Linked DNA regions of Homo sapiens. The protein of the gene in region 1 interacts with the protein of each later gene in a biochemical or structural test. Each region holds a gene or a part of one and is shown on either strand. Other genes may lie near its edges.

Evidence for each region.
Region 2: the proteins of PSTPIP1 (region 1) and PTPN12 form a complex in vitro, tested with the Homo sapiens proteins (one study listed by BioGRID).

The regions. Positions count from the first base shown.
Region 1 is NC_000015.10:77,007,321-77,022,139, forward strand, and holds part of PSTPIP1 (proline-serine-threonine phosphatase-interacting protein 1), read left to right. Parts: intron 1-526; exon of another isoform or gene 527-736; coding exon of another isoform or gene 737-745; intron 746-10,827; coding exon 10,828-10,928; intron 10,929-11,136; coding exon 11,137-11,211; intron 11,212-14,819. UniProt on the Homo sapiens protein: Involved in regulation of the actin cytoskeleton. May regulate WAS actin-bundling activity. Bridges the interaction between ABL1 and PTPN18 leading to ABL1 dephosphorylation.
Region 2 is NC_000007.14:77,527,636-77,542,886, forward strand, and holds the start of PTPN12 (tyrosine-protein phosphatase non-receptor type 12), read left to right. Parts: upstream 1-9,659; 5' UTR 9,660-9,911; coding exon 9,912-10,010; intron 10,011-10,407; exon of another isoform or gene 10,408-10,471; intron 10,472-15,251. UniProt on the Homo sapiens protein: Dephosphorylates a range of proteins, and thereby regulates cellular signaling cascades. Dephosphorylates cellular tyrosine kinases, such as ERBB2 and PTK2B/PYK2, and thereby regulates signaling via ERBB2 and PTK2B/PYK2.

The DNA.
Region 1 (14,819 bases):
CTTCTGGCCCTGTGCAGTGGCTCATGCCTGTAATTCCAGCACTCTGGAAAGCTGAGGCAGGTGGATTGCTCGAGCCCAGGAGTTCAAGACTAGCCTAGGAAGCATGGCAAAACCCAATCTCTACAAAAAATACAAAAATTAGCTGGGGCGTGGTGGTGCACACCTGTGGTCCCAGCTACCTGGGGGGCTGAGGTGGGAGGATCACTTGAGCCCAGGAGGTCGAGGTTGCAGTGAGCTGTAATCATGCCACTGCACTCCAGCCTGGGCAACAGAACACTTTTTTTTTTTTTTTGAGATGGACTCTCGCTCTGCTGCCCAAGCTGGAGTGCAGTGGCACAATCTCAGCTCACTGCAAGCTCCGCCTCCTGGGTTCACGCCATTCTCCTGCCTCAGCCTCCCGAGTAGCTGGGACTACAGGCACCCACCACCATGCCCAGCTAATTTTTTTGTATTTTTAGTAGAGACGGGGTTTCACTGGTTAGCCAGGATGGTCTCGATCTCCTGACCTCGTGATCTGCCCGTCTAGGCCTCCCAAAGTGCTGGGATTACAAGTGTGAGCCACCGCGCCCGACTGGCAATAGAACACTTTGAGGACTGCAGTCACTGAAGCAGAAGGGATTCCCTTCTTGGTCACCTCCTGAACAATTGCCCATTGACCTGGACCAGCTCTGAGCCCACTCTCCTAGGCATCAGGACATCAGACTACAGGTGGTAGGAAGACCCAGAACAGCTGAGGATGGTTCAGGCAAGCAGAGCTGGGGGTGGAGGGCGGGAGATCAGCACAGAAGTCTGGATCAGTGTCCCTGGAGCTGCAGTGAATACTAAACGCAGCCAGGTGTGAGGTCTGCACAGCACAGGGAAGCACAGGGTGTGGGTGGGGTGTTTGGGGATATCTGTGAGGATTCTCACTGACCCTGAAACCAAAGAAACAGGTGTGGCTGGTGCCAGGACCAAGGGAAGACCAGCAGCTGAGCCTGGGTCTAGGGTCAGAGCAGGAGCCGCTCTGAAGCTGCAGAAATTTCATCCCCGTCCTCAGATAACTCCCAGTCCTCAAGGGAAGGAGCTTGCACTCAGGGTCTGGCAGTCTTTTTGTTTTGTTTGTTTTTTGAGACAGAGTCCCACTCTGTTGACCAGGCTGGAGTGCAGTGGCACCGTGTCGGCTCACTGCAACCTCCGTCTCCTGGGCTCAAGCAATTATCCTGCCTCAGCCTCCCGAGTAGCTGGGATTACAGGTGCCCGCCACCACACCCGGCTAATTTTTGTATTTTTAGTAGAGATGGGGTTTCATCATGTTGACCAGGCTTGTCTCGCACTCCTGACCTCAGGTAATCCACCCGCCTCGGCTTTCCAAAGTGCTGGGATTACAGGCGTGAGCCACTGCGCCCAGCATTCTTGATCTGAGTCCTACCTCTGTGTAGGCTGAGAGTAAAACGTTAAATAGTGAGTGGTCCCAGAGAGCACTAGGCTCCTCACACAGCCCCCAGGCCTGGGGTAGGGGGAGCATCTGACTCTAAGTAGAGTCGTGTTTCTCCACCATGCGGCTGTGTGTAACATGTACACTGGCTGTGTTGGGCAGAGCAGGGCGATTTCCCAGACTCCAACATAGAAGCCTTTACTTGGCAGGCGCCATCTTTGTCTCTCACTCTGACCTTGGAGCCCAGTGGCCCGCTTCGATCCTACTACACTCATGGGTGGTCCTGGGGAGCCCCTCAACTCTCTGAGCCTTGGTTCCTTGTTTGTAAATATTGTAGTAGTAAACTAACTTTGGTGGTTAGAGGATTGAGAGTGGAGACATGCAGGTTAATGGCCAAGCAAGGATAAGGAGCCCCACGTGCCATCCCCTGCAGGTGTGGAGTCCAACTAGCCCCCCAGGCACGGAAGGCCTCAGGCTCAGCTCCGAGGCCCTGAACCTGCTGAGGATGGCAGAGAGAGCCAAAGGGCCTCCAGAGGCTGCAGGGGTCCCTGCCTTCAAGGAAGGGCACGGGCATAGGAGTGGAGCTCCTCTGAAGCTCTAGGGGCCCATCTCTGTCTCTTGAGCAAGTCCCAAGCCCAGGGGAGCCTGCCAGCCCTCACACCTACAGCAAATCACAGCCGCAAAGCAGGCACCTCATATCAGCCCTATAAGGGCTTAGGAGTCCACGTATTCTCCCCAATTTACAGATGAAAAAATTGAGGCCAGAGAGTGGGAGCCACTAGTCTAGAGAAGTGTCCCAGCTAGGATCAAACCCAGTTCTCCTTGTAAACGCCCCTTCCCTGGGCTCCTCTCAGTTAACATGCATGAATCCCCTCGGCTGCCCTTCCAGGAGCCCGGTGAGCGTCAAATGCCCTGCATGAGGCTCCTGCAGGTGTTGTCCATTCAGTCCTCAGAGCCCCTGGAAGTGGGTGATGCTCTCATCCCGATCTCACAGAGGAGGAATCTGGGCTCAGGAGGTTTGTGACTCATGCAGACTGTGTGGAACTGGCCAGAACCAGAACCCAGTGCCTGAGCCCTGTCACGCCCCACTGCCTGGACTCGCTGTGGGCCTGTCCTCCCCTGGGACATCCCTGGCAGGCGTAGGTGGTGTGGGAGGGCAATGCCTGGGGACGGGGATGTGCAATGACAGTGCCTGGACCACTGGTGCCCCTGGCTGGTCACTCACAGGCGGGAGTCCATTCGGCAAGGAGCCGTGCTCTTCCTGTGAAGACGCCTGGACCCCTCCTGGCTGGCTACAGGGTCAGTGCCTCCTCCAGGGCTTGGGGTCTGGGGTGGCTCAGCTCCATCCTCCCCTGCATCAGTCACCCCCAAGGGCCCACGGCCTCCCTTCCTCACTTGCCCTCACTGTCGGCCTCCTTCCTCGCCCACTGCTGGATCCTAGTGAGCCTCCAACTGCCAAATCAGCTTGGCAGGGGCGGTACAGAGCTGTGTAACCTGGACAAGTCACTGTTATCCTCACTTCCTTGTCTGCCTGTAAGATGGAACAGTAACAGCACAGTACTAACTTGACGGGGTTCCCTGAGGACTGGAGGGGATCATGCGTGAGAGCCCCACCAGGCACCGCACACTCAATCCCTTCCCCTGAACCTGGAACCTGGTCCTGGTTCCTATGACCTCCTGGGAAGGTCCTGCCCTTTGCTGTGTGTGACTTGGCTCTCCTCAGTCTGGCCTCAGGCCACCTTACAGACACCTGCTCCATCTCCCTGCACCTGTCTCTGCTGCCTTGAAGCAGGTTGCACAGGAACAGCACTAGCACTGGACTTCCAGGCAGCTGAGTCTGAGGGGCGTGTCTCCATCTACCTCTGGCCGCCTTGTGTTTGCTCCTTGCCTCCTCTCTCACTTTTCTTCTCTTTTCTATTTCTTTTTCTTTTGAGACAGGGTCTTACTCTGTCACCCAGGCTGGAGTGCAATGGCTCAATCTCGGCTCACTGCAGCCTCTGCCTCCCAGGTTAAAGTGATTCTCCTGCCTCACCCTCCGAGTAGCGGGGATTACATGTGCCCGCCACTACGCCCAGCTAATTTTGTATTTTTAGTAGAGACAGGGTTTCACCATGTTGGCCAGGCTGGTCTCAAACTCCTGAGCTCAAGTGATCCACCCCTCTCAGCCTCCCAAAGTGCTGGGATTTCAGTTGTGAGCCACCACGTCCAGCCCTCTCTCTCTTTTCTGCATGTTTTGGTTTCATGACACAGGAGAAAGAAGTGGGGATTGGGCTGGCCCCATGAGAGTGAAGGAGGGGAAGCAGGCGGGGAACTCAGGCAGTGGGGTGCTTTCCTGCCTCATCATTGAGAAGGCCTATTTAAAAGAACAAAGCTTTCAAGCCAGACAGACCTTGGTCAAAAGCCAGACGCCCCACAACATTAGAGAGAGTCACCTCTCTTGTCTTCACCTTCCTCATCTTCATGACAGACAGTAGCTGCCTCGTGGTCAGTATTGCTGAGGGCAGGTACCACACTCATGCACAGTGTGTCCTTGTCCAGTGCCTGTGTTGTCCCTTCAGTGGGACCCCTGGGAGTCCCTGGAAGCTCACAGGGCTCTGATGGGGTCCCTGTCAGCCACGGGCCTGTGGGCCTCCCAGCACAGTGGAGCCCAGCCCAGGCATCTCTGGGACTCGGCCAGCTGGGCTGCTCAGGTGAGGGGCCCTGTAAGGCCCGGCAGAGGCCATCAGACTGGGACTCGGAGGAGAACTGTGGCACTCTGGAAACTCATTTCTAATCTCAAGGTCCTGTCAGCCCAGGTGAACAAAGAGTCGCTCATCTGACATTAATGCACATTTGTTCTCTAAAAACTAAAAGTCTGTCTTTGCCTTCTTGGCCCTCTGTCTTCAACACTTACCCTGGGCCATCTCAGACAGCTGTAAGTCATCTTCATCCCATATTTATTTGCTTATACATGGATCGCAGCAGTACTTGAGTCAGGGGACCCCTAGACACCAAGTCCCTAGTTTAACAGGCCATCTGAGGCTTGAGTCCTCTCTGTGGAACCAGACCTGCTTACAGACTGTAGTGATGGGCGCTCCTCACCTGTCAAAGCCCCCCACCCTCTTTCCATACCTACAGCCATTCAGGCTCCTGGGAAGCCTTTCCTTGCATTGTCCTGGAGTTGGCCTCCCTGTCTCTGCCCCCATGAGTCCTGGCTTGGGCTGGGAAATGCCAGCCACTAGTGCTCCCTCTGCTTCTGATGGCCCCACAGAGATCTCCAGGTGAGACTTTTCCTAGGCCATTCCCTCACAGCTTTGGCTTGGAACTCTCCCTTCCCTCCCTATCACCTCCTCCCAAATACTCTGGGTAAGCAACCGCCTTGTTTACTGAGGGCTCTGGCCATCCATCCATCCATCCATCCATCCATCCATCCATCCATCCATCCACCCACCCACCCACCCACCCATTCACCCATCCACCTGTCCATCCATCCATCCGTCCACCCATCTGTCCATCCATCCATCCACCCACTCATCCATCTACCTACCCATCCACTCATCCACCCATCCACCCACCCATCTACCCATCCATGCATCCACCCACTCACCCATCCCTCCATTTGTCCACCTGTCCACCAGTCCACCCATCCACCCACCCACCTATCCACCCATCCATCCATCCACCCACCCACCCATCTACCCATCCACCCATCCATCCACCCACCCATCTACCCATCCACCCATCCATCCACCCACCCATCTACCCATCCACCCATCCATCCACCCACCCATCCATCCATCCTTCCATCCATCCATTCATCCATCCATCCATCCATCAAGTTGTACCTGAGTGTTTGGTCCTTTGCCTGCCTCACTTTGCCAACCAGTAATGGTGGAGAGGAGTCCCACTGTGGGGTACTGACTGTAGGGCGGTGGAAGGAGCCTGGTTGCTACCCATTGACTTAGCATCCCTGTGCCTCTGTTTCCGTATCTATACAATGGGGATGATAATTCCTGTCTCAGAGGACTGTTGTAAGAAGTAGAGGGGACCAGTGTGACTGGCTTCTTTAAAGGTGCTGGGTAATGGGTCATTGAATCTGCAAGCAAATGATCTGGTCCCCTCCATGGGGCACCTCAGGAAGCAGCCGTCATAAGGCCTTGTCCTCTTGAAGGCCTCACTGAGGCGCTTCTCCAGCCCATCACTCAGCATGTCTGTGAGCAGAGCTGTGTGTAGGCACCAGGTGCCGGGATCCAGTGGGGAACCTGAAAGACCCCCCTCTGCCTCCATGGAGCTCAGCCCTTCCTACCTCAGGTTTTCAGTCCACAGAAGACAAGCAACAGGAAACTAGGTGCTAGCAAACCCACAGTGTCAGCCACACTGGCTGCAGATGTCACTGCTGGTGTGAGGGAGGAGAGCACCCCAGCACCATGCAGCTCCGTGCAGCTACCTTCCAAAGCTGCTGCTACGTCTTGCTTCCCCACCTGTGGCCCATGCTGGAGCTTTCCCAGTCATCTTCAGGTGTAACCCAATCCAGTCCAAGCTAGTATCACAATTTCACTCTCATTCAATTTAAAGCTCCCCAGTTCCCCGACTTTCACTGGAAGCCTCTGATGGGGAAAAGAGAACAGGGTCAGTTTCCTCCCTTGCCATGGGGTACCCACACTGCACTGCCAGCTGCCTCTGGGGTCTCCATGGGGGGGTGGTGGGGCACAGGCCGTGACTGTAAAGGGGAGAAACATCTCATTGCCCTGGTACTGTTGTAACTGGTGACAGTGAATGCACACAGGTCAGCCCTTTCTCTCCCTGGCACCTGGGCAGGTTTTTTGGTGACCCTGCCCCCCTGGAGTCCCTGACCACTCCGTTCCCTACAGCCTTCCACTTCCAACCTCTCCCGTTGCACCCAATAGTCTGCTCCACTCAGCTTCTCCTAGGGGCTCCTCTCTCCCTGTCAGGCTATTCTCATGGACAGAATTACCAGGCAGCTCTTCCTGGCTACCTTCCACGGCCCCCACTTGGTTCCCAGGGAAGATTTTGGTGCCAGTTCTTGGACATAGCAGGTAGGAACTCGGACCAAAACCCAGGTGTCCCCCTCCAAGGTTGGAGGCTTAGCTGTCCTCTGATAGATGCTGTATTCTGGAGTGCCAGGCAAGGGAGCATTTGAAAAAGGCTCTGCTCCCCTTTAAATGGAACCTCTGGTGGAGGAAGGTGTGTAGGGCGAGAGGGGAGGTGATGAGGTGACTCATTTCTTCCAGCCTGGCCCCAGCTGAGGGAAGGTGTTTCTGGTCGGGGAGGTGGCAGGCAGGCGGGGAGGGCTCGGGGAGCTGCTGCTTGCTGAACTGCCCCTGGGTGACAGGCCCTGAGTGTGGGGCTTTGCAGAGAGGCAAAGTAATGGGAAGTTAACAGCCAAGATCGTGGCTTGGGATATCTGGGTTATATCCCAGCTGCACCCGGCAGGTCCCTGGGCAGATTGGGTAACCTCTCTGGGTTACCTTTTCCTCATCCATAAAATGGTAGTCATCACCCCTAGCCCAGTATCTGCCTTGTGGTGAGCCCTGATCTTGAGTCCACTGTTCTCACCTATGCGCACGATTTCACTTGCTTCTCGGGTCACCTCTAGGCGGTGAGAACTATTAGGCCCATTTTCACAGGGAAGGAAACAGGCTGAGAAGGGCCAGGGTCACGGGAGGTGTGAACCCACATCTAGTCAGTCAGACCCTTCCCAGCCTCTCAAACAGGCCCGAGTACCCTCTCTGACCTGTGGCCTACACTAACAGGACTGTGCCCTAGAGGGGCGGGCTGTCAGGGCCCGAAAGGGGGTTAGCCTCCTGCCCCCACTTTCCCAATGAGGAAACCAGGTCCTGAGAAGTAAAGTGGCTTGCTTCAGGCCCTGGTGTCTGTGGTCTCGCCCCTGCAGCCACCAAGAGTTATGGGCGTGAAAAGGGGGAAGTGGCGGTAGTTACAGAGGGTGCTTCTCCACTCAAGCCGTGGGGGTGTGGAGGGCCCTGGCCGGCTCACAGGCCTGGGCCGTGGCTCACACCAACACCCACCAGAGAATGAAGCCAGTAGGCTGTCCCTGACAGAACAGGGCACCCAGGCCTTGGCCACACTGCCTCAAGGCAGAGGCAGGAATATGTTTCCTCCCAAGAGCCTCCTCCTGGAGTTCTGGGATGCCGCCTGAGGCCGATGGCCACACACCATGGACGGCGAGGGCTGGGTCCCACATCTGGCTCAAGTGAGCCTCCCAGAGGAAGAGACTGTGCCCGCTCCCCACCTGGCACCCCTAATCCAGGACGGGTTATCCTGGGTGCCACATGGCTGGGCCGTGACCACTGGCTGTTCATGGGTTACCCAGAGCCGCACTCCTCTGACCCAGCCTGGGCCCCAGGCTAGCCTCTGTGAATCCACAGTAACTGAATTATAGCCCAAAATACAGCTTTGATTTGAGGTGGAGATAATTTGAGTAATCATTTTCAAGAGTTATTTTTTCAAATCATGTTTGGATGTTCCAAAATAGAAAATGGTTCCTGGGCTGTCTACTAAATGGCTGATGTAGGTATATGGCTTTGGGGACAGGTTGACCTGCATTCAGATCCCAAACTCTGCCCTTTACCCATTGAGTGGCTTTGGGCAGTCTCTTTCCCTGTTTGGGCCTCCTGTCCCCATCTTCGCCTCCCGAGATCTGTGTTGTGGTCAGGAAGATAACGCTATGATACCCTTGGTGCAGTGTGTGCCAGGTAGACTTGATAAATAGAGATTTCACAAAGGGCAGGGCCACAGGCAGCATTCGGATGACAGAGGTTGGACAGGATGAGGGGAGATGGAGGTAAGAGGAGTGGGGGACAACTAGGGTAGGTCCCCTGGGGGTGATGCTGATGCTGGGTCTTGGGTGGCAGACCCACATGACTGATTAAGTTACAGGATGATTGGTTCATTCATTTCCTAAACACATCCTGAGCCTGACTGTCCCAGCTCAGAGCACGGAGTCAGACCCATGCCCTCGAGGAAGTGGCAGGGGTGGGGGTGAAGGAGGAGGGCGCGGGCTGGGGGAAGGGGTGCAGGGCTGGGAGGCATCGTGAGCAGCCCCTGGAGAGTCAGGCACTTCCTCGGAACATCCCAGTCCTTGTGACAGTAGCTCACTCGGCCACAGCCCCTGCCAGCAGCCCAAAGCTCTGAGCGGGGGACTGGGCGGGATCCTGGAGCCTGCAGCCTCTGGGGACTTGAGCACGGCGGTCACAGCCTGCAGGGCCTCTCGCTGCTTTCTGACTCCTCCCGAATGGCCAGCGTAGGTTCGGTTTGCTTCTCTTTCCACTCTGGGGGCCTCCATAAGGACAGGAGAAGGGTTCCCTTGGCGTCAGGGCTGGGTGTGGGGCTGGGCTCCAGGTGGCCTCTCCAGAGGTATCAGGAAGGAATGACAGGTCCCCTGAGAGTCCGGATTCTTGTCCTGACTCTGCAGCGTCAAGCAAGCCATTTCCTTCTCTGGCCTCAGTTTCCTGAGGAGTGAGGGAAGCCGCACAAGGTGGTTCCCAGTTCTCAGGGCGGGGGGGTCTGTGGCATTCTGACATGAATGCTGGTGTCCCTCCGGGCAGGTGCAGGAGGCTGAGGCCCCAGATTTGTTTTTCTTCCCAGCCGCCAGGAGCTCTGACCTGAGGGTCTGGAGTGAGGGCAGAGGCTGAGGGGTGGGAAGGGGAGGGCTGCTGGCTGCAAGCAGCTGCCCACCAAAACCACAGAAATGGAAGCCTGGTCCAAGCTAACCCAGTGATGTCAACCTGGACATGGGGGTGGGCGCCTGCCTCTGAGGCTGGGGGGACAGCTTCTGGCCTTCCAGGCTAGACACGCTGCTTGTTGCTCTGTGGACAGCTGAGCCTGGACCAGGCCCTCCTCAGGAATTTCTAGGGATGCTTATGGAGGGGGTAGGAGCTTGGGGTCCTAAGTGTCCTACAGGCCAGGAGAGTCCACCTGCTGAGGGTGGGCTGGAGTTTGTGGGGAGGGGGGGCACTGTTGGGGCAATTTATGCCATTGCTACCCCTACTTCAGATTCTTCTTAGACCTTGGAGAATACCTTCTCCTTCCAGCACCTGACTCAAATGCCTCTTCCTGCAGAGAGCTCTCCTGGATTTCGACTCCATCCCTGTTCCCCTCACACCCCTAAGGTGGCATTTGAGGGGAGACATGGGTCAGGGGAAGGAGTACCAGGCTTTACCTGAGTCATGTGTGTGCGACCCTGGAGTGTGCGTGACCTTGGAGACTGTAATGTGTGTGGTCAGGGGAGCTGGGACTTCTTCCTCCAGTCTCTGAGGCTTTAGGGGTCCTCAGGGATAGAAAGGAAGACAGACTAGGTGCGGAATGTCAGGCCTGCCTTGGTGCAGTTGGTGACAAAAATCCTGTCTCCCCAGCACCTCTCAAGCTCCCCTGGAGTAAGCCTGCGTGCAGTGCCTGGGAGAGCTCAGGGGGTTGTGGCGGGGATCCTGGCCCCGGGACCCACTCCCCAAGCCTGGGAATGTCCTGGGAGACCTCTGTTCCTTCATAGTCCTTAAAGACTACCTCCCTCCCCCAACTTCTCACACCCAGCTTCCCACACCAGCAGCTCAGACACACACCTGGAATCCACTGCACAGTGAGAAAGGAGAATTGGGTTGGCCAGGAACAACAGCCAGGGCAAGCAGGGCAAGTGCCAGGCAGCAGAGGGTAGCTGTCCCTGGAGAGTTCTCTGAGGCTCCCCACCCCACCCCAGTCCAGAGGTGAATGTAGGGTGTGCTTGCGCATGCTCTGACCTGGACTGAAGTCACCCTCCATGCCCACCTCCCTGGATCTCCGTGAGGGGGGGTTTCCTGAGCCCACAGAGAGCCCAGCGCAGCATCTGGCACATGGCTGGTGCCCAAGAAACCGCAATTGCTGTGATGGTCATGGAGACTGCACAGTGCTGAGGTGAAGGGCAGGGACCCCAGCCAGACAGCCTGGGGTTCAAGGCCAGGCCAGCCACTTTCCAGCTGGGCCGCTCTGGATACGATCACATGTCACCCTCCTACACCTCGGTTTCCCCACTTAGCTGAGATAGGGATATTGGAAGGGTGGCACTGTGAGTGAGTGAATTTCAGGCCTGGCTGTCATCAGGGGGACTTAAGGGTGGCTCTTCCCATCTGCTATCTCATGCTGATGTGTGTCCTGTCCTGTGAGCTCTCCAGATGCCAGGCCCGGCACCCCCGGCCCTGTCAGCTGGGTGGGGCTCACTTATGTACCTGTCACCTCTGCAGATGTGAGGGGACCTCCTGTGTGCCTGTGTAAAGCCAGGTCTGGAGTCCCAAGAGCTTGCCCTGAGCAGGGGAGATGGAGGCAGGAGGGAGGCTGTTCCCAGAGATGGTGGGAGGGTCCCCACAGGGCTGTGCTCAGTGTCGCCTGGTCGTGGCCCTCATGTGTCCTTCTGTCCTGTGTCACAGTGCAGGGACTTCACAGCCCACACGGGCTACGAGGTGCTGCTGCAGCGGCTTCTGGATGGCAGGAAGATGTGCAAAGACATGGAGGAGCTACTGAGGCAGAGGTGAGCTGCTGGGCAGGCCATGGGGAGCGCAGGCAGGAAGCAGGTGGCTTCCGCTCGGCTCCTGGGACAGTGGACGAGGCCCCCATCCCAGCCAAACTCTGTCAGAACACGCCCTGCTTTAAAAAACTCTTCTGTGTTCCCTCAAACCTGGGCCTCCCCCAGAGGTGGCAAGTCACTGATGATCTTTCAAATGCCCTTTTTTTTGCAGGGCCCAGGCGGAGGAGCGGTACGGGAAGGAGCTGGTGCAGATCGCACGGAAGGCAGGTGGCCAGACGGAGATCAAGTAAGATCTCCCGGGCCCTGGGGCTCACTCCTCTCCTCTGCTGGCAGTTTCTGGGCCTTTAGATGAGGTTTAGGTCTTCCTGGCATGGGGGAGGCTGGGCAGAACCAGGGTAGGTCTGGATTGCTCCTTGGTGCCTGGTTATTGGGCATTCAGGGTGAGGCCAGGTTCTGTGAGGGAGGAAGCCCGAGGGTCTGAGTTCTGGAAAGGGTCTGGGCAGGGGAGACAGGAGGCCATCCATCCTCAGTCATTTGCAGCGCAGTCTGCACCAGCCTGGGTGGCCTCCACTGAAGTCCTGAGGGGCAGGTGACAGGCGTCTCCACTGGTGGCTCAAGTCCCCTGCAGCACTGGCTCAGCATGGGCTTCAAGGATGGAGATGTAGCCAGAGACAGGGGTCCAGGAGGGGACACACCTGGGTTCCGGTGTCAGCTCCTCACCCCCCAGCTGTCTGACCATGGGCTGGCTGCTGACACACTCTGTGGCTCCGTTTCCTCATCAGTGATGGGAAAGTAACGCAGCCCTCCTCAAAGGAAGAAGTGGGCCCATGGGCTTAGCTGAGGCCTGGTTAGAGGGCAGGCCGTCAGGGAAGTGGCTCTGATGAAGCGGGAGTCTCCAGCCCCACAGGTCTCTGCACGCAGACTGCTGGGGTGGGAGGCCAGGTGAGGAGATGAAGGTGAGTTCAGGACACAGCCACCCTAACAGTGGAGTGGAGGGGCTGCTCTGGGAAGGCCCAGACTGTCCCCCTGGGTGAGGACAGAGCCAGGCCAAGGGGCAGACAGACCACCGGCCTCCAACTTCTTGAAAGGGCTCTGCAGAGTCCTCCTGCCGAGGGGCCCTGAGCCTGACCCTGCAGCTGCTGTGGAACCCCTTCCCTTCCTGCCTTCTCCCCCGAGAGAGGAACTGAATGTGCCATACTCTGAAGGTCCCCCAAAGACACCAGGCACCCTGGCGGCTCCTGCTTCCAACCAGGAGCCAGAGATCACAGGAAGGCTTAGATGTGGCATGAGCCGTGTGTGAGGCCAGAAAGTTGCACACAGCCCTGGGAGGACGGAGGGCTCTGAGGAGCCCTTGGAGCTCTGGTCCCGGCTCGGCCAATCTGAGCTGTGGGACTGTGGGCCAGTCGCCTAGCCTCTCCAAGTTTGTTTCTCACCTCCCACTCCAGCGAGCTGCCGTGCAAATCAACAAGAACATGGTCTGAGGGCCTCCCAAGGGAAGGGCTGAGGGCCGGGTGCAGGCTGGGCACAGAGGAGGGCTCAGGACATGGTGAGGAGTGAATGGACGTATGCAGGGAGGTGTTTTCTGCAGGAAGCAGTGCCCAGAGCTCTCAGCCAGGGGAGGAGCAGCTGTGGGGGCCTGGCAGCATGACCAGGGGAGCCCCTCCTGGTCTCCTGGCCTCCCAGCCTCCAGGCCAGCTGGAAGAGAACTTTCCCAGAAAGAGAGGGTACCTCATGGGGAGAACTCAGAGACTCAGGAGAGGTGGAGAGGGTGGCCCCAGCAGGGCACAATGGGAGCCAGGCTGGAGTGGGTCTGTGTGATGCAGGCTCAGGGGATTGTGAGTCACAGGGGATTTACAGCAGGGAAAGAGAAGCTACCCACAGAAAATACAATGGGGGTGGGGAGCAGGGTGGGCCTCAGGAAGCAGGAGGTACGCAACATCTTGCTCCATTTGTAGAACTAGGAAGGGGCCAGGTGGAGGCTCTGGGCGGCCCTGATTGCGCCATGGTTATTCAAGGCCAGGTGGGGCAGGGTCTGCCCTGACTTATCCTTTGTGTGGCCCTGGATGGTCCTCCCTGTCTCTGAGTCCAGGGTCTGTACCTATGGAAGGGGATGGTCACTTGGAGAGGTGTTCTGGGCAGTCACAAGGACAAGCAGAGAGTGCCAAGCCACAGGGGTTCACTGCACACAGTGGGGCTCCATAGTGTTGCTCTTGACCCATGTGGCATGAAGTACTGTTGATGAGGCCATGCAGCTGTTCCTTTCGGTGTAGGCCAAGCATCCATCCTCCATCCATTTAGTCACCATTTAATTGAGGACCTACTATGTGCCATGCCCTGGATGGGTCAGGAGGATTCACTAATTTAAAATAAAATAAAGGGCTTTGCCATTCCTTAGCCAGAGTCCAGCACAGTGAGGGTGACTTCCTTCTCCTTCCTAGTCCTTTGCATTAGGGCCCATTTATGCGCCACCTCCTCCAGGAAGCCCTCCCAGACACCTTGCCTTGCCTTACTGTCAGAGTCTTGGCTTAGACCCAATTACCCCTCCCCATGCCAACCTGAAGGGCTTTTGGTGGGGAAGTGTGAGCAGTGGCCGTGGACCTGTTTCCTCATCTTAGACTCCTGTGGGGGGGGGGGGTGTGTGTGTTGGCCCTCAGGAAAGGTGACCCGGCTCTTCAACATCGGGGCTGGTGGCCCACCCTCCAGGGCCCATCCCTGAGTAGGGGAAGCCCCTGGCCTCCCTGAGGCCCACAGCTGCCCCCCAGGTCTATGGGATGCTCATTCCCTGCCCCTTGCAGAACGGGCAGGGGACTGGGGGATGGGAAGGCTAGGAACAGGGTGCAGAACGAGGACAAAAGCCAGGTGGTTAAGTGACCCTATAAATAGCCTAGTGAGCCCTGAGGGCAGAACTGCTGCCTGAAGGTACTGCATTTCTGCAGTCCCCTGACCTCAAACCAGCCGGGAGCCACCCTCAGGCCTGGAGGCTCGGGCCACTGAAATTAACAGGAGGTTACATCTTAAGTGATTTTTGACATGTACCTCCTTCACATGTTAACTCAGCAAACATCCGTGGGGCAGTGGCAATGGAGGATGGACAAGTAAGACCCAGTCCCCAAACTCCAGGGATCCCCACCAGCGCTTTCAGTGCATTTTAAAGACAGCATTAGGGCCAGGCGCCGTGCCTCACGCCTATAATCCCATCACTTTGGGAGGCTGACCTGAGGTCAGGAGTTCGAGACCAGCCTGGCCAACATGGTGAAACCCCGTCTCTATCAACAATATAAAAATTAGTTGGGCATGGTGACGCGAGCCTGCAGTCCCAGCTACTCAGGAGGCTGAAGCAGGAGAATCACTTGAACCTGGGAGACGGAGGTTGCAGTGAGCCCAGATTGCACCACTGCACTCCAGCCTGGGCTGCAGAGCGAGACTCCATCTTAAAAAAAAAGATAGTGTTAGTATTTGCAGGGGGCTTACCAACATTGCTGACATCACATGTCCAGCCCTGCAGAGACTTTGCCTGACTCTCCTTTCCAGCCTCTGGGCCTTTGCTCCTGCTGTTGCCCTGTTGCTCCCCTGCCCAGTCCCACCCATCCCTCAAGGCCTGCCTGAAATGTCACCTCCCTCAGAAAGCTGTCACCTCCACTCCCCTATTGCTCATCCTGCGTCAGGTAAGGTGCTGGGGGTGCTGCATGCCCCCAGAAGCTGCACAGGGCAGGGGTTTGGGAAACAAAGGAAAACCAAGGCAAGGCCAGCTTCCTGTAGCCCCTCTGTGGTTACCAGTGGGCAGGTACAGCCCCCAAGGGGTGCAAGTTTGAATCCTCACGTCCCTGCCTCACCCCCAGTTGTCACAAACCAAAAATGCTGTGGTTTTCCTGTCAGAGAGATTTTTAAAATTTT
Region 2 (15,251 bases), on another chromosome or scaffold:
ATAATTTAATTTCTCTAAAGTTATGCATTATTATCCTTACTAGTATTCTAATGCATATATAAAGAATATAGGGTCGGGTGCGGTGGCTCATGCCTGTAATCCCAACACTTCGGGAAGTTGAGGCAGGTGGATCACCTAAGGTCAGGAGTTAGAGACCAGCCTGGCCAACATGCTGAAACCCCGTCTCTACCAAAAAAAGAAAAGAAAAAAAAATTAGCCAGGCATGGCAGTGCACACCTATAATCCCAGCTACTTGGGAGGCTGAGGCAGGAGAATCACTTGAACCCTGGAGGTGGAGGTTACAGTGAGCCAAGATTATACTACTGTACTCCAGCCTGGGGACAAAGAGAGACTCCTTCTCAAAAAAAAAAAAAAAAAAATATATATATATATATATATAAAATAATACCTGACCTACCTACTTAAGGGTAGAGTTATAAGGATAAACAGGATGTGATATATGAAAAAGCTCTGACATATTAAGCTTTGAAATACACATTGAATATTAGAGAGATTTCATCCCTTCCAAACTTCTCTTCATTTTTATGTGTCTTCTGAAAATTTTATGTTACCGTAGGAAACTAAAAAGTTATGCTCCCTTACTGCCAGTTTCCTATTTATTAGATGACACATTTCAACAAAAAACTCAGATTAAAAAATGGTCAACATTTGCTGTGACTATGGCTAGAAAGAAGGAATAAATAGGATACCAGGATAAACAAGAATTTCCCTAGCTTCTCATTCACTCTCTCATAACCTCCCACCCAAAAGTCTATCTTAAATATAGTTTCAGAGTATGGAGAGGACTGAGGAATGCAGAATGAAATGACAGGTTAATATTAGAAATGCCATTGTGGGAGACTCTCAGGAATGATTTCAACCTTCACCTGCAGTTTCACTTAAATCACACCAGGTATAGAATCATTGTGACTCAGTGGTTTATGCAACAATCTGGAAACTCAGGACCTGTAAGCTTTGGCCATGTGTCTGACATTTGTTTTCCACAAGTAAGCTAATCATGTTCACTCACTGTGCTTCATTTAGCTTTTATCTATTAATGAAGAAAATGATATGAAATTACTTCCCAGGGTTGTAAAAAAAAAAAAAAGAACAGAACTCACAAAGAGCTATAAAATGCTGTGAAAGCCATAACAAAGGTAGCTTGTATGAGTATAGATGTGAAAACACCCCAAAAGTTAAAATTTCCACACATTTAAAGCATTAATTTTACCTGAGCTAAGGGAAAAAAAAGGTAATATGAACATGAAACAAGTAGATCATCCTGAAACCTCTTTTGGATTATTAGTTTTAAATTCCTTCCCACTCAGACCTTCACAAAAGTAGTAAGAAGAGAGATTTTTTTAAAAATGAAATTTAGCTTTCTTCTCATTCCTCCTGTATTTACCCAGAGTGATGTAGCTAGTGAGTAGGAAAAGGGCCTAAAGAGATGAGGAAGGAGGTAAAAAAGCACAAGACCCAGAAATCATTAACGGTCTTTAACCAGTTATTATTTTGTGTTTTGTTTTTCTTTTCTTTTTGAGACAGAGTCTTGCTTTGTTGCCTAGGGTGGAATTCAGTGGCATCAGAGTTCACTGCAGCCTCAACCTCAACCTCCGAGGTTCAAGCAATCCTCCCACCTCAGCCTCCCAAGTAGCTGGGACTACAGGTATGCACCACCACGCCTGGGTAATTTAAAAATTTTTTTTGTAGAGACTGGGTCTCACTGTGTTGCCTAGGCTGTTCTCAAACTCCTGGGCTCAAGCAATTCTCCTGTCTCAGCCTCCCACAGTGCTGGGATTGCAGGTGTGAGCCGTTGCGCCTGGCCTATTTTGTGTTTTCTATGAGTAAGTATATAGTACACCACTGCTGAAACATTATCTCATTAAGCCAGCACCAGGTGGCTTTCCTAAAAGAGGAAACTGATGCTTAGACAGCTTAAGTGACTTACCCTGAACAAGAAATGGAACAGGTTTTTGAACCTTCATTTCTCTGACTTCAGAGCCCACGCTCTTTATTACTGCCCTATTCTGTTTCAAGAAAAGCAAAATTTACTTATGGAATAAATGTCAACTGAACCTCTCCTAAAAGTTTATCGGAAGTCAGGTTACTCTGGAGATTCTCCCCATCTCCCCCATGGCCATATGGGTTATGTTGTGACATACCCACATATTGCTGCATGTCTGCTTAATGTTCTTTTCTTTCCTTTAAAAGTTTATTTTATTTTACTTTATAGATACGGGGTTTCGCCATGTTGGCCAGGCTGGTCTCGAACTCCTGGCCTCAAGTGATGTGCTCGCCTCAGCCTCCCGAAATGCTGGGCTTACAGGCGTGAGCCACTGAGTGCATCCTAATGTTCTCTTCCTAATCAGATTCTTTATACTTTCTACTCTCTCTCAAGGCTTCAAATCGCTAATTCTACCCCATGGCATACATTCAGCTTCTGCCCTTGCTGCATAATGACTTACTCTTTCTAGGTTTCCAAATTCAGATTCCTAAGAGTGAGAACTGATTGGCCCAGACCATCTTCTTATACCAGGACATAGGTTGCTGGCCAGTCTGTATGGGCTGATTAACTTCTCAACTGCCCAAACACGTGGCTGTGACAGAGGATAGGCAGAGCAGTAAATTTCCCTGAGACTATAGTATAGGTAGGTGAGCTTTCTAAAGCTGGACCTACCATGTGCCATTTTTAAAAATCTCCCAAACAAGATCTGCCTCCTTCCACCCAGCTTTTTTTTCTGAGACAGGGTCTTGCTCTGTTGCCCAAGCTAGAGTGCAGCGGTACAATCATGGCTCACTCCAGCTTGGAACTCCGGGGCTTAAGCAATCCTCCTGCCTCAGCCTCCCGACTAGCTGGGATTACAGGCACACATCACCACGCCTGGGTAATTTTTGTATTTTTAGTAGAGACAGGGTTTCATCGTGTTGGCCAGGCTGGTCTCGAACTCCTGACCTCAAGTGATCTGCCCGCCTTGGCCTCCCAAAGTGTTGGGATTACAGGCGTGAGCCAGGGCACCCAGCCTGCATTTCTTACTTTTTATTTTATTTTTTTTGAGACGGAGTCTTGCTCTGTCACTCAGGCTGGAGTGCAGTGGCGTGATCTCAGCTCACTGCAAGCTCTGCCTCCTGGGTTCACGCCATTCTCCTGCCTCAGCCTCCGGAGTAGCTGGGACTACAGGCTCCAGCCACCACGCCCGGCTAATTATTCGTATTTTTTTTTTTTAAGTAGAGACGGGGTTTCACCGTGTTAGCCAGGATGGTCTCGATCTCCTGACCTCGTGATCTGCCCGCCTTGGCCTCCCAAAGTGCTGGGATTACATGCGTGAGCCACCGTGCCCGGCCACTTCTTACTTTTATTTTTGTTGTTTCATGTATTGGCTCCTAATATCTCTCATTCCCTTCTCTCTCATTCACAATTTATCAGAAAAGTACCAGATTACTATTTTCCTCATTTCCATAATTTTGCTTCTATCCTCAGAAACCTCTTGTGGCTCCCATGCCTACAGTATCAACATTCTCCAGAGCCTAGTCTACTTTGGAGCTTTCACATCTATACAAATGTTCTACTTCAAACTTCTGCTTTGCTGTCTTCATGCTTATCACTTCTCTTGCCTGGGCGTTCTACTTCCTGTTCAAACCTAATTTAACTTACCCTTTAAGGTCTACCTCTGTGACCACCCCATGCTGACAGCCCGGTCCACAATTCTCTCTCCTCAGAACTGTTAAATCACTTATTATCTGTATCACTCTTTCACATTTATTAACTTAAAGTAACTAAGAGTTTATTGTTTTTCCTGTCTCCTGAACTAAGATATTCATTCCTTAGGAGTAGGAGCCATCTCTATAACATTTTTGTATCTGACACACACAGCATAAACCCTCATATGTTGATATGTTAAAAAGCCATATGTAGATTGAAACAAGACCTAAATGTATTGAAAAGAAGAAAAAGCCACTTTGAGAGGCCGAGGTGGGTGGATCACGAGGTCAGGAGATCGAGACCATCCTGGCTAACATGGTGAAACCCTGTCTCTACTAAAAATACAAAAAAATTAGTCAGGCATGGGGGCGGGCGCCTGTAGTCCAAGCTACTCGGGAGGCTGAGGCAGGAGAATGGCATGGAACCCGGGAGGTGGAGCTTGCAGTGAGCCGAGATCACGCCACTGCACTCCAGCCTGGGCGACAGAGTGAGACTTTGTCTCAAAAAAAAAAAAAAAAAGAAGAAGAAGAAGAAGAAGAAGAAAAAGCTAGCAAGGTACCAAGGAAAGCACTGCTAAGCCTTTCCAAAGAACTGAAATCCTGGCGGGGCTTGGTGGTTCACGCCTGTAATCCCAGCACTTTGGGAGGCCGAGGTGGGTTAATCATTTGAGGTCAGGGGTTCGAGACTAGCCTGGCCAACGTTGTGAAACCCCATCTCTACTAAAAATTCAAAAAAATTAGCCGGGCGTGGTGGCAGGCACCTGTAAGCCCAGCTACTGGGAGGCTGAGGCAGGAGAATCACTTGAACCAGGAGGCTCAGGTTGCAGTGAGCCGAGATCGCGCCACTGCACTCCAGCCTGTGCGACTAAGGAAGACTCCATCTCAAAAAAGAAAAAAAAAGAAAAAAAAGAATTGAAATCCTTGGAGATAGTTTACATAAATTTTCCCAAACCTAGCAGTAGATGCCAAAGGTAGCCGCTGAGAACTCAAGAAACTCTCAAGTGTTGCAAGAAAGAGAGAGAAGCTTGCCAATAAGACGAAACATTTTAAAAAAGACTAAAAACACCAGCCAAAATGGGACTCAATACCTTAAACAAGTAACACTTCTTACCCAACACTATACCAAACCGTACTAGACTGTTACACAACTTGTTCAGCATATCTTCTTTACCGATCATTGTCTGGTTGGTACATTCTTTTGAACCATCAAAAGCAGAGGCACTTCTGATCATCCTTCCATTTCTCTTCCTACAGTCGAATTTCTCTCCCATTTCTGAGGGGAAAGGGCCATCTACAATAAGCATGATCAAGCCCTGATTCTGGCATTTCCTCACATCCCGTGAAACTCAGTCTCAGTATCTGGTTAAAGTAAAATACTGCGGGCCCTTTTTTCAAATAAAGTTTACCTTAGAAATTAAACTATTCCTCTAAGTGAATTTTTGAAATACAGAGCAAAACTGTATCTCTTTGCATGCACACACATATATAAATGCATAGGAAAAAATTTGGAAGGGCATAACTTGAAGTGCATTTTTTTCTTTTTTCTTTTTTTTGTTTTTTTGTTTTTGTTTTGTTTTGTTTTGTTTTTTATTGATCATTCTTGGGTGTTTCTCACAGAGGGGGATTTGGCAGGGTCATAGGACAATAGTGGAGGGAAGGTCAGCAGATAAACAAGTGAACAAAGGTCTTTGGTTTTCCTAGGCAGAGGACCCTGCGGCCTTCCGCAGCGTTTGTGTCCCTGGGTACTTGAGATTAGGGAGTGGTGATGACTCTTAATGAGCATGCTGCCTTCAAGCATCTGTTTAACAAAGCACATCTTGCACCGCCCTTCATCCATTTAACTCTGAGTGGACACAGCACATGTTTCAGAGAGCACAGGGTTGGGGGTAAGGTCACAGATCAACAGGATCCCAAGGCAGAAGAATTTTTCTTAGTACAGAACAAAATGAAAAGTCTCCCATGTCTACTTCTACACAGACACGGCAACCATCCGACTTCTCAATCTTTTCCCCACCTTTCCCCCCTTTCTATTCCACAAAGCCGCCATTGTCATCCTGGCCGTTCTCAATGAGCTGCTGGGCACACCTCCCAGACGGGGTGGTGGCCGGGCAGAGGGGCTCCTCACTTCCCAGTAGGGGCGGCCGGGCAGAGGCGCCCCTCACCTCCCGGAAGGGACGGCTGGCCGGGCGGGGGGCCGACCCCCCCACCTCCCACCCGGACGGGGCGGCTGGCCAGGCAGAGGGGCTCCCCACCTCCCAGTAGGGGCGGCCGGGCAGAGGCGCCCCTCACCTCCCGGACGGGACGGCTGGCCGGGCGGGGGGCTGACCCCCCCACCTCCCTCCCGGACGGGGCGGCTGGCCGGGCAGGGGGCTGACCCCCCCACCTCCCTCCCGGACTGGGCGGCTGGCCGGGCGGGGGGCTGACCCCCCCCACCTCCCTCCCGGACTGGGCGGCTGGCCGGGCGGGGGGCTGACCCCCCCACCTCCCTCCCGGACGGGGCGGCTGGCCGGGCAGAGGGACTCCTCACTTCCCAGTAGGGGCGGCCGGGCAGAGGCGCCCCTCACCTCCTGGACGGGGCGGCTGGCGGGCGGGGGGCTGACCCCCCCACCTCCCTCCCGGACGGGGCGACTGGCCGGGCGGGTCTGACCCCCCCACCTCCCTCCGGACGGGGCGACTGGCCTGGCCGGCGGCTGACCCCCCCACCTCCCTCCCGGACGGGGCGGCTGGCCTGGCGGGGGGCTGACCCCCCCCACCTCCCTCCGGGACAGGGTGGCTGCCAGGCGGAGACGCTCCTCACTTCCCAGACGGGGTGGCTGCCGGGCGGAGGGTCTCCTCACTTCTCAGACGGGGCAGCCGGGCAGAGACGCTCCTCACCTCCCAGACGGGGTGGCAGCCGGGCAGGGGCGCTCCTCACATCCCAGACGGGGCGGCGGGGCAGAGGCGCTCCCCACATCCCAGACGATGGGCGGCCGGGCAGAGACGCTCCTCACTTCCTAGATGTGATGGCGGCCGGAAGAGGCGCTCCTCACTTCCCAGATGGGATGGCGGCCGGGCAGAGAGGCTCCTCACTTCCTAGATGTGATGGCGGCCAGGCAGAGACGCTCCTCACTTCCCAGACGGGGTGGCGGCCGGGCAGAGGCTGCAATCTCGGCACTTTGGGAGGCCAAGGCAGGCGGCTGGAAGGTGGAGGTTGTAGCGAGCCGAGATCACGCCACTGCACTCCAGCCTGGGCACCATTGAGCACTGAGTGAACCAGACTCCGTCTGCAATCCCGGCACCTCGGGAGGCCGAGGCTGGCGGATCACTCGCGGTTAGGAGCTGGAGACCAGCCCGGCCAACACAGCGAAACCCCGTTTCCACCAAAAAAATACGAAAACCAGTCAGGCGTGGCGGCGCGCGCCTGCAATTGCAGGCACTCCGCAGGCGGAGGCAGGAGAATCAGGCAGGGAGGCTCTTTTTTTTTTTTAGAGACAGAGTTTCGCTCTTGTTGCCCAGGCTGGAGTGCAATGGCGTGATCTCGCTCAATGCAACCTCCGCCTCCTGGGTTCAAGCAATTCTCCTGCCTCAGCCTCCTGACTAGCTGGGATTACAGGCATGCGTCACCACGCCCGGCTAATTTTTTGTATTTTTAGTAAAGACGGGGTTGGTTTCACCATATTGGCCAGGCTGGTCTTGAACTCCTGACCTCAGGTGATCCGCCCGCCTCGGCCTCCCAAAGGGTTGGGATTACAGGTGTGAACCATCGCGCCTGGCCTTTTTATTTTTATTTTTTGAGACAGACTCTCGCTCTTTCACCCAGGCTGGAGTGTGGTGGCACGACCTCGGCTCACTGCAATCTCCGCCTCTCAGGTTCAGGCGATTCTTCTGCCTCAGCCTCTGGAGTACCTGGGACTACAGGCGTGCACCACCACACCCGGCTTTGTATTTTTAGCAGAGACAGGGTTTCACCATATCGGCCAGGTTGGTCTCGAACTCCTGACCTCAAGTGATCCACCCAACTCGGCCTCCCGAAGTGCTAGGATTACAGGTGTGAGCCACTGCACCTGGTCTGAAGTGCATATTTCTGGAGTGGATGTATTAGTTGGATTATTTTAACAGAAATATTTTCCTTTTTTTGAAGAAGTAAATAAACTATATCCTGTTACACCTATTTTCTTTTCTTTTTTTTTTTTTTGAGACAGGGCCTCACTCCCGTCGCCCAGGTTGGGGTGCAATGGTGTGATCACAGCTCACTGCAACCTCCGCCTCCCGGGTTCAGGTGATCCTCCCATCTCGGCCTCCCAAAGTGCTGGGATTACAGGCGTGAGCCACCGCGCCCGGCCTACACCTATTTTCTTCAATGAGTTTTTCACTAAATTCCATAGTGCTCCTAACTTTCATCTGAGAAAGTATTCTACCACTGATATTTCCTATTATAACCAAATTCGCTGACCAATCTGCTCTGTAAAAAAAGGTTTGTGGGTATAAATGACGAAAGTCAGTTCATGGATCAAATCCTTCAGTTCTGTCACATTGTGAGAGGCCACTGTTGTGAAAGTAAAATAACTTCTAGTTACGGCTCTGCTAAGAATACGCTGGGGGATGTCAGGAAGTCGCTTTATTTGTAAAATGATGAGTTAGACCAGAATATATTCTCTGATAGAAGTTTACAAAGATGAATAAAGATTTATAGGCTAGGCGCGGTGGCTCACGCCTAAAATCCCAACACTTTCGGAAGCTGAGGATCCCTAGTGCACAGGAATTCGAGATCAGCCTGGGCAACCTGGTGAGACCCCCTTCTCTACCAAAAATAAATAAATAAATAAATAATAAATTTTTAAAATGTATTAGCTGGGCTTGGTGACGTAGTGAGGCAGGAGGATGCCTTGAGCCCAGGAGTTCAAGGCTGCAGCGAGCCGTGATCATAGCACTGCACTTTGGCATGGGAGATAGAGCAAGACCTTAGCTCTAAAAAAAAAAAAAAAAAAAAATTAATAGATTTATAAAGTCCATTCTATGGAGGAAAGTCTCTTATTCAGTTATGAACTGCTGCGAACCTAAAGGCAGGAAGGCAAATTCCCTTCAGTTCGGCAAACACGAAGACCCCACATTCGCGTCGTCTGTGAAGAAGGCACTCCGAACCTCAGGCGCTCACTCGCCAGGTTTAAGAGGATGAGCAAAGAATAAAAGTCCTCTCACCCAGGAAGCGTTTCGCTTCCCTTAGCTGGAGCCACGCTCCAAGGTGCCAAAGCCTAATTGCTGTCCACTCTCACCAATCCGTTAGCAAGATGAGCATCTACCTGCTGCGAACGTGGCGGTGACACTACTACAGCTCCCAGCCTGCCTCCCGCCCGCCCCCACTCCTGGACTCCACAGACCGTGACTTGTAGTCCCAGCCCACGGCTGGCGGCGGTGCGGGACTCCTGAAAACTGCTTTTCCTCCCTAGTAGGCGGTGAGACCGCAAATTCCATCAGAATCCTACTCTGACCCACTAGGGCTTGGCCCGCTCAGAGTCGCATTCCCTCCTCCAAATGAACCAACTCTCCTCCCAGCGATACTCCGACCTCTGAGCACCCCGGGCGGGGCCACGCCCCGGAAATGGAGTCAGGTCTCCAGGCCGCCCGCTGAAGTGCCTTCCAGCCACTCCAAGCGGGGCTGGGGCCGGCGGGGCGGGCTTGGGGGCGTGGCCGGGAGGCGGGCGGGGATGCATCTGCGGGCGCAGCGCTTGGGGCGGAGCCGCAGCGCGAGGCCGCGCATCTGGGTGGCGGCGGGGACGCGCCCGTGGGGAGAGGCGGCTGCGGCTGCGGCTGCGGCTGCTGGCGGGGGGTGGGGGGGAGGAGGAACCGGGAAGGGGGGGCAGGGCGAGCGGAGAGCTAGCTGTGTTCCTGAGGCGGCGGCGGCGGCGGCGGCGGCGGCGGCGTCTCCGACGGAGGAGGAGGGCGGGGAAGGAGGATGGAGCAAGCTGGGGGTTGGGGTTGGCGCTAGCGCAGCGGCTCGCCTGGTACTGTGGGAGAGCGGCGGCTGCTCCTGGAAGTTGTGGTGTCGGGAGCCCAGCCGGTGCCGCCGCAGCCGCCGCCTAGGGCGGTGGGGAGGAGGAGGGAGCCGCGGGGCTTGGCGGGGTCGGGAGGGAGGGACGTGCTGGGGGAACGAGCTGGGGAAGACGGAGCGGGCTCTGTGCCGGGCGGGCGGGCGGCGGGGGGGCCAGCGACCGCAGCCGGGGGGACGCGGGAGGATGGAGCAAGTGGAGATCCTGAGGAAATTCATCCAGAGGGTCCAGGCCATGAAGAGTCCTGACCACAATGGGGAGGACAACTTCGCCCGGGACTTCATGGTGAGTCTCTCCCCTCGCTGTCGCGTTTTCTTGCCGGCGCCGGAGCCCATCGCCGCCTCTCCCGGCCGGGCCGCCAGTGCTTTGTGTACCTCTGTGAGGAGAGGGGCGGAGGGGGCGCGCACCAGCCGGGTGAGCCGGGTGGTCTCGGAGGCCAGCGGGAGGCGAGAGCGCCTCCCCCCGTGGCCTCCTTTCTTCTCCCATGTTCGCGACCCCCGCGCGGGTTCCCGGGACGCGAAGGGAGCGGCCGCGCGGCCGAGCCCGCAGCCTGCACCGTGGCTCGCGACCACCTATTGTTTACCGGGCCGGGAGCCGTAGGCAAGTGAGGTGCAGGCCGGGGGGGGGGGCTCGCGTTTCCACACCTCCCCGCGCAGTTCGCTCCTCCCAGGAGGGTCGAGGCAAGGTATCTGGCTGTGACCGGGAGGAGTGCAGATCGTGGCTGACAGAGGAACGGGGGTATTGAGGTTGGCACTAACTCCTGGGATCCCTTTGCTCTAGCTGGTCTCAAAGCGGGCAGGGTAGGACTTAGGCCGTTTCTGGGGTCGCAGTCATGATCTCCAACGCTTGGGAAAGGATTGCCCATAAGGAATCTCATGGGTTTACCTAATTTCCATTTACCCGCGTCCCGCTTCTCCTCTCCTGAGGCCCAGGTTTGAGGTGGTCTTGGGGTCCGTGTGACTATAGGTTCAGGGGATAAGTGTGGGTGGGGGAATTATCCTGAAGGAAGCCAGCCGACTTCGGACTCCCCAGGGGATATTGCCGAAGGCGGAGGGGATGTGACTATCACTTCCTATCCGGGGTGGGGGTGGGGAACTTGGGAACAATAGTCCTGGTGGGGCGGAGGCGACGCTACGGGCCGAAGCCCTGAACTGGGAGATAACCTTCCCAGCGCCCCCCCGCCTCCGCCACCCCCTACTTTCCGCCCTCTGCTTGTGCAGGCAGTCTTGAGAGGAGGTGAAGGTTAAAAGTCTTGTTCATGAAATTGCTCTAGATACACTATTGCTTTAGCACACTGTGAGGGGGTCAGATCCGAAGGCGTGAGACCAGAAGTCGACTTCCTACGTTACCCACCCCCCCAACCCCCGCCCTTTTTATTTTTCTGCTGGACAATGTTCCCTCTAGGGTTGTTTCCCGGCTTAGGAGGCGGTGGTTGCGGCTGCTGCTCCTACGGATATTGCGCAAGACTGGGGCGTTGGAAACCCTGTAGGTCTGGGGAATGAAAAAGGAAGTGGGACTTTGGGAAGTGGTTGCTCCTTAGTCTTGGCGGGGGTTGGGAATGGGAAATAAGCTGGGGAAAATTTTTATCTTGGGTAAGGTACACCTCGAAGAATAATCACTTAATTCTGAAATCTGATTATGAGAAGGATACACAGTTAATGCCTGTAAAATGAATGGGCAGCAAACATTGGCTAGTTTTTATTTTTTGTTTAAAAAGTACAGTAGTTTTTATGGTGGAGGTGATATGACTTAGTAGTGAATACTTTTTCACGTTTTAAAGAGACTGGTCTAGTAAAGCTTTAGCGTTAAATTTTTAACAGCTTATAAAATAGGCCCTTGACCATACACAGTATTATACTAGCATCGTTGAGCTTTGTGATTCCCGCCTCCCCAGACCAATAATAGAGGACGGAAGTAAAGTTTTCTCAGTATCTTTTGAAGATTGAAAATATAAGTTAAATAATCTAACTTATTCCTTATTAAAAATAAAAATATTGCTTATATTTAAACATTTGCTCTTGATATTTAGCCTATGTATTTTTGAAAAATTACTTTTTGATCTGAAAGGGTTAAGGAAAACGGCATTTTCCCTTTTTACTATTGAGAGTTTTTATTGTCTTGGTATCTTTTGAATGGTGTCATTTACAGCAATTGGATGGAGTCCCTTTTTTACTACTTTCTAGCAAAAGTAGAAGAAAATACTTTGAATATTTAAGATGTTTAAAACTAGTTTTTTTGGGTTTTGTTGTTTGGTTGGTTGGTTGGTTGGTTTTTTTTTTGAGACGGAGTCTCGCTCTACGCTCTGTCGCCCCGGCTGGAGTGCAGCGGCGCAATCTCAGCTCACTGCAACCTCTGCCTCCCAGATTCAAGCGATGCTCCTGCCTCAGCCTCCTGAGTAGCTGAGATTATAGGCACGTGCCACCACGCCCGGCTAATTTTTGTCCGAAGTAGCCGGGACTACAGGCGCAAGCTACCACGCCCTGCTAATTTTGTATTTTTAGTAGAGATGGGGTTTCGCCATATTTGCAGGCTGCTCTCGAACTCCTCATCTCAAGTGATCCATCTGCTTTGGCCTCCCAAAGTGCTGGGATTACAGGCGTGAGCCACCATGCCCGGCCTAAAACTAGTTTTTTACCGTCTTACTTTGGTTATGGAAGAAGAGATGGTGTGGTCCCTGGTCATTTCTTGTTTGCATGCTAGTCACCTTGTTATCCCTAGGCATATACCGTCAGGAAGGAGCATTGTTTGGTGATGCGGGCCATCAGGACAGGTTGCCCAGCCTCTGAACTCCTGTACTGGAGAAGTGGCCTTAGGGTTCATGCTTTGGGGATGAGTCAGGGATTCCTATTGGAGAGTTCATTTCTTTCTTTCTTTCTTTCTTTCTTTTTTTTTTGAGATGTAACACCTCGCTGTGTCGCCCAGGTTGGAGTGCAGTGGCTCAATCTCGGCTCACTGCATCCTCCACCTCCCAGGTTCAAGCGATTCTCCTGCCTCAGCCTCCTGAGTAGCTGAGATTACAGGCGCATGCCACCACGCCTGGCTAATTTTTGTATTTTTAGTAGAGATGGGATTTCACCATATTGGCCAGACTGGTCTTGAACTTTCATCTGACTGACTTTGTGATCTGCCCGCCTCAGCCTCCCAAAGTGCTAGGATTACAGGCATGAGCCACCGAGAGTTCATTTCTCCAAGAGTAAATGAGTTTCCTTTTTCTTCCATGATACCTAGGTATAGCTAGGTGATTCTACATTAGAGATTTGATGACTAAGGCTATTCTTTTATAGGGCTTTTTTTTTTTTTAATTTCCTGACTTGATAAGCAATAGCTGTAATTAAGACAGCCGGTAGTTGGTGCTGCTTTTTCCCCTGACTGGAAGGCTGGAGAGGAACTATGTTCTCCTGGCATGGAAAGAGAAAAAAAAGATTAGCTTATAGATTCTATTATTTTTAAATTCTGATGTCGATTAAAAATGCATTTTAAATTCTTAACATTTTATGACTGAGCCTTAGAGATAATGTAGCTGATATAACTGTTCCATCATAAAATAATGTTTATTCCAAATTTGGAAATTAATAGAATAATAATAATGCCTTACACTTAGACCACAGTTCAAATGAACACTCCACTTGCCTGACTGGTGATGATGCTCTTTTCGCTCTATCCAGCTGTCCTACAGTCCTGTCATTTAAAGGCTACCTCTGTTAATATTTTTTGGTTTTGTTTTGTTTTGTTGTTTTGTTCTGTTTTTGAGACAGGGTCTCACTCTGTCACCCAGGCTGGAGTGCATGGTTGCGATCCTGGCTCACGGCAGCGTCGGTCTCCCTGGGCTCAGGTGATCCTCCCACTTCAGCCTCCAGAGTAGCTGGGGCTATGGGCCCACCCCACCAAGCCCTGCTGATTTTTGTATTTTTTGTAGAGACAGGGTTTCCCCATGTTGCCCAGGCTGGTCTCAAACTCCTGGGCTCAAGCAATCCACCTGCCTCAGCCTCAAAGTGCTGGGGTTACAGGTGTGAGCCACCGTAGCCGGCCTACTACTTGGTAACTATCTTATATCTTAATTTTGTTTCTTTATGTTTGAGTATTTAGGTCATTCTACTTTCTGCTGTTACATATAGTAATTCTGTGATTAACATTTTTGCTGAAACTGACATTTTTCACTGTTGCATAAGATAGCTTCCCAGGAGTACTAGGTAGACGTATATAAACATTTAATACATGTTCATAAACTTGAAAAAGTTTTGTCAGTTTATACAACTGTCATAATGTATGAGTGTTCATATTATAATTTTCTTGATCTTTATTTGATGGTTGAAAACTGATATCTTGTTTTAACTTGAATTTCTTGATTACTATTGAGGATAGAAATTTTCCACCTGTCATTACTATTCTATGAGTGTCTATTCCTGGCCTTGGTTGTGCCCCATACTGTTAAAGAGGAGACAGCTAAGGTACCCAGACTGTGCAGAACTATGTTGCCTAGATGGTTATTTGCATGTTGAAAACATGCTAATTTTGCTAATAAATTAGCAAATAGCTAATTTGTGGCTGATCCAGAATTTGATCTCAATTATCTCTACTTTTAATATTTACAAAATGAGAGATAAATGTATAAAGTAGGGTGGTGCACATTCATGTTTGACAGACCTAGGTTTTAACTCCACACAGACTCCCTCTGATGGCTGGGGGTTGGGGAGGTGGTCCTGGACCATACTTTGAGAACCAGTGAGCTAATACATGGTAAATGATAAAGGTAATGCTGGGAAAGTTAGGTAGAGGTCTTTTTGTGAAGGATCTTACATCTATGCTATACTTAGATTTTATTCTACAGACCGATAATAGCAATTCTGGACAGTCTGCATTGTAACTCCTAGAGACATGGAGAAAGTAGGGAGGTGTTAAGAAAATAGACATGCTGGTCCACTCCAGCGTCATTCCCCCATCTCACCTTCTCCAGCCTGCTCCTTGAGTTGTACTCTGAACCTTCACTTACTTAGATAGGTTCTGGTAGAAAAGGTGAGAATCATTAGTCTGGGTTTCTGGAGCACTACTGAGTCTTTTAAGAAAGGTAAACAGTCATTTGTGTTTTACAAAGTTGAATCTGATAGCAGTATGAAGGGTGGCATTTTGGAAGCTGTTGAAATATAAGAAGTGAGATGTGAGGGCCTGAAGTGAACTGAGATGGGGAAATAGAGTGTATACAACACATCTGATAAGAATTAAGAAAGGAGTCTCAATGATTCATTAGATGTAGGTAGTAAAGAAGAAAAGAGTATAGTGTTATGACTCGCAAAATATCTAGCTTGGTATCTGTCACCCAAGCTAGAGAATACCATTTGGTAGAGTAAGGAGTGAGGGAGGAGAAACAAGTAGAGGAGACCAAACAACATTGTAGGAGGAAGTTTCAGGGGGAGAAGAGGATAAATTTAATTTTCAACATGTTAAAACTGCGGTGCCTCTGAGACATCCAGTAGAAATGTAGAGCTCAAGATTTCTGACAGGACGGAGTTAAAGATGTAGGCATCATAA